2 separate regions of the Homo sapiens genome follow, and region 2 is linked to region 1. Evidence: fine-mapped expression QTL. A gene starts in region 1. The other region holds a variant in brackets. All regions are shown on one strand. Distances are between the middles of the regions.

Region 1 (2,917 bases):
TACAAATGCTTCAACAGAACTCATGCCAGCAGCCTACCACAAGGGTGCACCTTAAGCGATTTTTCTAGTGGGAAGCCTGGTTCCATGCTAAGCTCTAAAGTTCTTGAAGACCAGGGACCATGCTTTCATCCCTTCTGGCTCTCTCCTCTGAAGAGAGAGGTCCAGCACAGCCTGTGGCCTGGATCTAGCTAAGTGACAGTGACCCCACCCCGGTGGCCTCATTCACACAGTGCTCCTTCCAACTGAGCTAGCGGCTCACTGCCCAGAGTCAAACCAGTAACAGTAGCTGCAGTGGTCACTTTCTGACTGACAGGCATTTTCCATATTGTCCTCACCCATCCAATAGCTCTGCAGCTTGCAGATGAAAAAAACTGATACTCGGAAAGCATGTGCCTTGCCCAGAGCCTCATAATCAAGAAGTAACAGAGTTAGAATTTGAATCCAGATCCATCTGGTTTCAAAGCTGGGCTCATTTCACCACCCTAGGGCCTGGATGTTCCAGTAACTGCTGGAGAACTGGAAGCTGTTGGTTTTAGAGCCTGAAGCCCAGGAGCACAGTGCCCAGCTCCTCTCTTACTGTTGTGAGGTCCCCGATCTTTCTTTTCTGCTTCTTTCACCTGTCATTCTCCTCTCTAGTGTCTCCCTCCATCTTCTGGCTCCCCTGGGAGCCACAGATAATTGACATGTTGGGATACACATGTCATTTGTGCTTTTGTCTTTTTTCATTATGTGGGAGCAACAAGGAAGAAAAAAAGAAAAGGAAAAATGCTGGTAAAATACAAAGATAGAGACTTGTAAAAAGAAAGCATAATTCTACCTTAGACTTCAATACTTGTGACAATGGATGGCTCTGCTGACCATGCTTAGGGCTGTGGAGAGTGCAGCTATTTGAAGGACAGGAAGTCTGGAAGCCTGGGTTCTCACCTCATACCCCAAGAGACCATAGAATGACATGAAGGTGGCACTCTTGCACACTTTCCCTCACTCAACTGGGATACACATTCTTCAAGGAAGAGGCTAGGTAACTACAGTCTAGAGCTGGGGACAATCTCCATGACAGAGTGGCAAGGGACTAGAGAGAGCAAGAATTCCTCTGCCCTAGGGATGGTTTAACAGCAGTGATAAGGTCCAGAGAAGAGCTGTGAAGGAAAGAGATGATTTCTGGAAAGGGGACAGAGGCCCCCATTTTGCTTACATGGGTTGTAGGAGTGACGTTAGAGCAGAAGAATGCGGACTGAAGAATCTGTTTCTCCCACAGGTTTTTCCCCCGCTTCCTCCTATCCCATCTTCCTATAACATCGGGGCAGCGTCATGGCCAGGTCTACATGTAACTTGGCCCCGTTTCCTCCCCCTCCTCCCCTTACCTCTAGTGAAGCCCCGCTGCTCTTGGAGGATCAAGCAGCTAGCAAGGCACACTTCAATGTGGCTTTTAACCCCTCATTTACTTGATTCATGAGACTCTGTCCCCTTCTTTCCCAAAATCAAATTATTCCCTTCATAGCTCTTCTGGGGACCTCACCGTTACTAAACCTCATCTCACACACTTCCAAGGAAAGAGTGAACAGTGAGTTGTGTGGGACCTACCACAGACAAGAATGTTGGGAAGCCTGGCAACTTCAGAGGTGGCTGGGAGGGTGGTGGCGTGGGCATCCAGATGCTTTTCTAAAGTGGGGACTTGCTTAGTGATGGAAGAGGTTTGAGGAAGGAGAGGGGGAGGCTACAGGAAACCTCAGCATGGCTGAAAGAGGAACTTGGACAGATGTTTGGTTTTCCCCTTCATCCTACCCAGCTTGCATCACACACCAGTTTCATTCTTAGTTCAGTTCTTCTGTGGGGTCTGTCTCTAGTTCCCCTGTGCTAGGGCCCTGAATCAAATAATGAAACTAGTCTCATCCACTCAAGGTTGGATTTTTTTTTTTTTTTTGAGACGGAGTTTCGCTCTTGTTGCCCAGGCTGGAGTGCAATGGCACAATCTTGGCTTGCTGCAACCTCTGCCTCCCAGGTTCAAGTGATTCTCCTGCCTCAGCCTCCCGCATAGCTGGGATTACAGGCGCCCACCACCATGCCTGGCTAATTTTTTGTATTTTCGGTAGAGACTGGGTTTCATCATGTCGGTCAGGCTGGTCTCAAACTTCTGACCTCAGGTGATCCACCCGCCTTGGCCTCCCAAAGTGCTGGGATTACAGGCGTGAGCCACTGCGCCCGACAAGGGTGGATCTTTGAGTCAAGGTTGGGAAGGGTGTGGAAGATGAAGGGAAGAAACACCTCATGTAAGAAAATCCAGGCAGCTCGATCTCAATGAGAGACTGCTAGGAATGAGAAGCCAGTGTCTGGCTGGGGAGATTTTAATTCCACAAATCCTCCTCAGGGCTGGGATAAATTTCACTTCCATGTGCACGGACAGGTGACACTGGCCTCCACATCCCTACAACTAGAGTTGGGCAGCTGAAACTTCACCCTCAAACTGAAGGCCTGGGGTGGGACATAACAGAAAACATCCTCATCCCCCTCCCGCTCTAAGCTTAGAAGCCCACTGTATCCTTGGGAGCAGCAGTGGACTCCCTGTGCCGTCTTGGGGGCGGGCGGTGTGTGGAGTGGTCAGACTGTGTCTTTACCGTGCCTTCTCTCTCTCTGGCTGGGTAAAAACTTCCTGCTACTGCTGCGGGGTCACTTCCTCAAACCTGAGGGGCATACGAGGGGCATATGGAAAGTAGGTGGGGCAATAAGGGTTGTAGTGGGGTCAGGCATCAGCAAGAGCAATGAGTTCATTTTTGTTTTCTTTTTTTGATTGAGGTAAATAAAAAAGCTTTATCCAGCAACACGGAGATAAGAGTCTGTCCAACCCGACAAGTTCCAGACCCCACCCTGCCCTCACATCAGGCTCTTCCGGTACTGACTGTGCGGGGTGGTCTGTCTG
Region 2 (2,917 bases), 71 kb after region 1:
ACTATGACAATTATAAGTCATACATTTAGCAACTGTCTCAACTATAGAAAATTAAATGCCTTTTGTCCAAGGTAAGAATTAAATAAGGAAATATATTTCCATTGTAATTGCTTTAGGACAAAAATGAATTTAATAATGGATAGTTCCACTTTTCTTTTCCAATAGCTGAAGTTGTAATTTCCTTGCTGAAAGAACACTTACTATTTCCACGACTTGAATCAATACGGCACAACAAAACTGACTAGTTGATTTGCAAAACCTACTGCTTTCTCTTAGTATTAATGATTGACCAGTGAAATGGAGACAAGTTGGTAGAATTTTACACAGACTGGGCTTGATCTCTAAGAAGCATCAGAACATGTCTCAACATGGTTGACAGAGATGAGTATGTAATAGCATGTAATCTCTAGATTTAGTACTTAATGATTTTAAGAGGCAGGTACCGATAGGAAAGGGGGCCAGGAGAAGCCATGTTTACATTTTTTAATCCTCATATTCAGGACCTTCCATATAGTATAGATTTATATTTATTATGCAGCAGAACAAATAATTTAATTCAAGTCAACAAATACTTTTGAGTCCCCATAAGGCAGTATGTCATGCACTGTTGCAGGCACACAGATAAGTTAAAGACAATTCCTGTCCCCAGTGAGTTCACAGTCAATGGGGTGAAGGATGATCAAAGTAATATAATTTATTCTGCTATATACATGTTTCTTTAATGTACTTTAGTTCTGTGAGATGGATAAATATGGAAATGGTGTCAGTTTAACACAGAAGGCATATTGGTTCACATGTAATTTTTCCAGAATGGATAGGCTTTCTTATGATTAAAGGGGAAGCCTTACCAATACCTTAAGAAAAAAAGATGATAATCCTACAGAAGTGTGTTCTGCAAGAAGTATCTGGTTTTGTAGCTTCAAGAACTGTTGCACTTTCCACTGTGTTATGCTATATGGGGAAAGGGCAAGTGCAAATAAAAAGGATGCAAATATATTGCACTGTGTAAAAAAGCAAAACAAAACAAAATAACAATCAAACACTGATTGATGAAGAAAGCTGTCTCCATATGGTATTTTTAATTTTGACAAAGTAGTCTTTATGAGAAGTGAGTATTTTCAAGACCTTATAATTTGAAGAAAACATGAGCCCCAGGAATAAGGCTGCAGAGGATGGACTGGCTCTATTTCTAGGTGCAAATGCCGGTGGAGATTTAACCATGCTAGTATTTTTATTATAATTGTTACTATTTTTATTAGGGCTCTGATTTAAAAATTATATGAATGTTTTCTTTCTTTCTATAGTCATGTAGATTTTAAGTGGTCTGCTTATAACCCTATATTCTCATAACCCTTTTTTTAGTGCATGTTTTTATAGAATATGAGGTTTTTCAGGAACAAATATGTGGTGTT[A/G]TAACAGAAACATGTATGCAAAAAACAAAACAAAAAGCAAAAGCTGAAAATCAGTGCAAAAGAGGAAGGGGAGAGAAAGGGGAAGAGAAAGTATATTGGGTTGTTGAGAAATTAGGAAAGACTTCACAGAGGTGACACTTGCCAAAGGTCCTGAAGAATCAGTAAGTATTGGAACCAGTGTGAGAGACCAAAAGCAGTGGCACTATCAAAATAAATATGGAAATCAGAGGAAGAAATGGCTTGGTTTGAAAGGCTGGCAAGAGCCTTGAAGGGCACTGAATTCTGAGGACATAACTATCAACTATATGATTACTTTACAACTTACAAAATGCTTTCACGTACATTATCTCTTTTGTACCTGACAACAACCATGTCCAATGTCTAAGAGCTCTTCTGTTCACACTGACTAGGGACTATGATGATAATGGGGAACCTCCCATGTAGCTTTCAAGTACAGAGTTCTCTGAAAGAGATTTCTATTGTTGATTTTTTGGGTTACTATTTCACTACCATCATCCTTAAGGGATCAAAAAGGGAGAAACTTCTCTTCTGTAGATTTCGATCCCAAATTCGTAAGATTTTTCTTATTTTTTTCCTTTCATGGGATCTTTCCCCTAGAGCAGCCACGGAATACAGCCCATTTAGGGTATCTGTTCAAATGTTCCACTATTTTCTACTATAATATGAAGAAATTTCAGGTACAAATTATGTATGTATCTCAATCAACAGCGTAAGTTTAAAACATTAAGAAATCCTGTTGGGGGCCGGGTGCCATGGCTTACACCTGTAATCCCAACAATTTGTGAGGTCGAGGTAGGTGGATCACTTGAGGTCAGGAGTTCGAGACCAGCCTGGCCAACATGGTGAAACTCCCTCTCTACTAAAAATACAAAAAATTAGCAGGATGTAGTGGCGGGTGCCTGTAGTCTCAGCTACTCAAGAGGCTGAGGCAGGAGAATTGCTTGAACCTGGGAGGCGGAGGTTGCAGTGAGCCGAGATTACGTGCCACAGTACTCCAGCCTGGGCGACAGAGTGAAACTGTCTCAAATAAATAAATAAAAATTTTAAAAAATTTTTTTAAAAAGAAAAGAAATCCCATTTGGGATTTCTGTTGTTACTTTTCTTATAGGCACAATGTCTCATTTCCTGCCCTTGCAGTCACTCTCTTACCACCTTTTCTGGCTGATCTGTCTCTGTACTTTTAAGCAAATCTGAGAAATCCAAGTAACTATAAATTCACAAAACTGGTATGATGACAGTCAAAGACTATTTGCAGTAATCAGTCTCTGCCCTTTTCTATTTACCTTCACTTGGATCTTGACTCTTGGCTGTTTCTTATTAGAGATAGTAAGTGTTGTTGATGATGACGTGGAGAAATAAGAACCCTTACACACAACTGGTGGGAATGTAAATTAGTACAGCCATTATGGAAAATAGTATGAAGATTCCTTAAAAAATTAAAAATAGAACTACTATATGATTTAGCAATCTAACTACTTGGTATA

The links. PIP is the estimated chance that this variant, and not a neighbour inherited with it, causes the effect.
Region 2: its variant is fine-mapped to the expression of LINC02988 in whole blood (TOPMed, PIP 0.98).

Annotation. Positions count from the first base shown.
Region 1 is chr1:150,159,478-150,162,394 of GRCh38, reverse strand. It overlaps LINC02988 (long intergenic non-protein coding RNA 2988), which reads right to left and starts at 1,667. Exons shown (of 4, transcript NR_135098.1): 1 at 1,585-1,667. It overlaps PLEKHO1 (pleckstrin homology domain containing O1), which reads right to left. Exons shown (of 6, transcript NM_016274.6): 6 at 2,330-2,917. The coding sequence ends at 2,872. RefSeq lists silencers at 260-329, 918-987, 2,688-2,737 and an enhancer at 1,598-1,907.
Region 2 is chr1:150,088,919-150,091,835 of GRCh38, reverse strand. The region is part of intron 10 of VPS45 (vacuolar protein sorting 45 homolog); the gene reads right to left. Among named protein-coding and RNA genes, the nearest start is that of VPS45, 23 kb to the right of the region's middle. The variant A/G (reference allele first, on the strand shown) is at 1,413.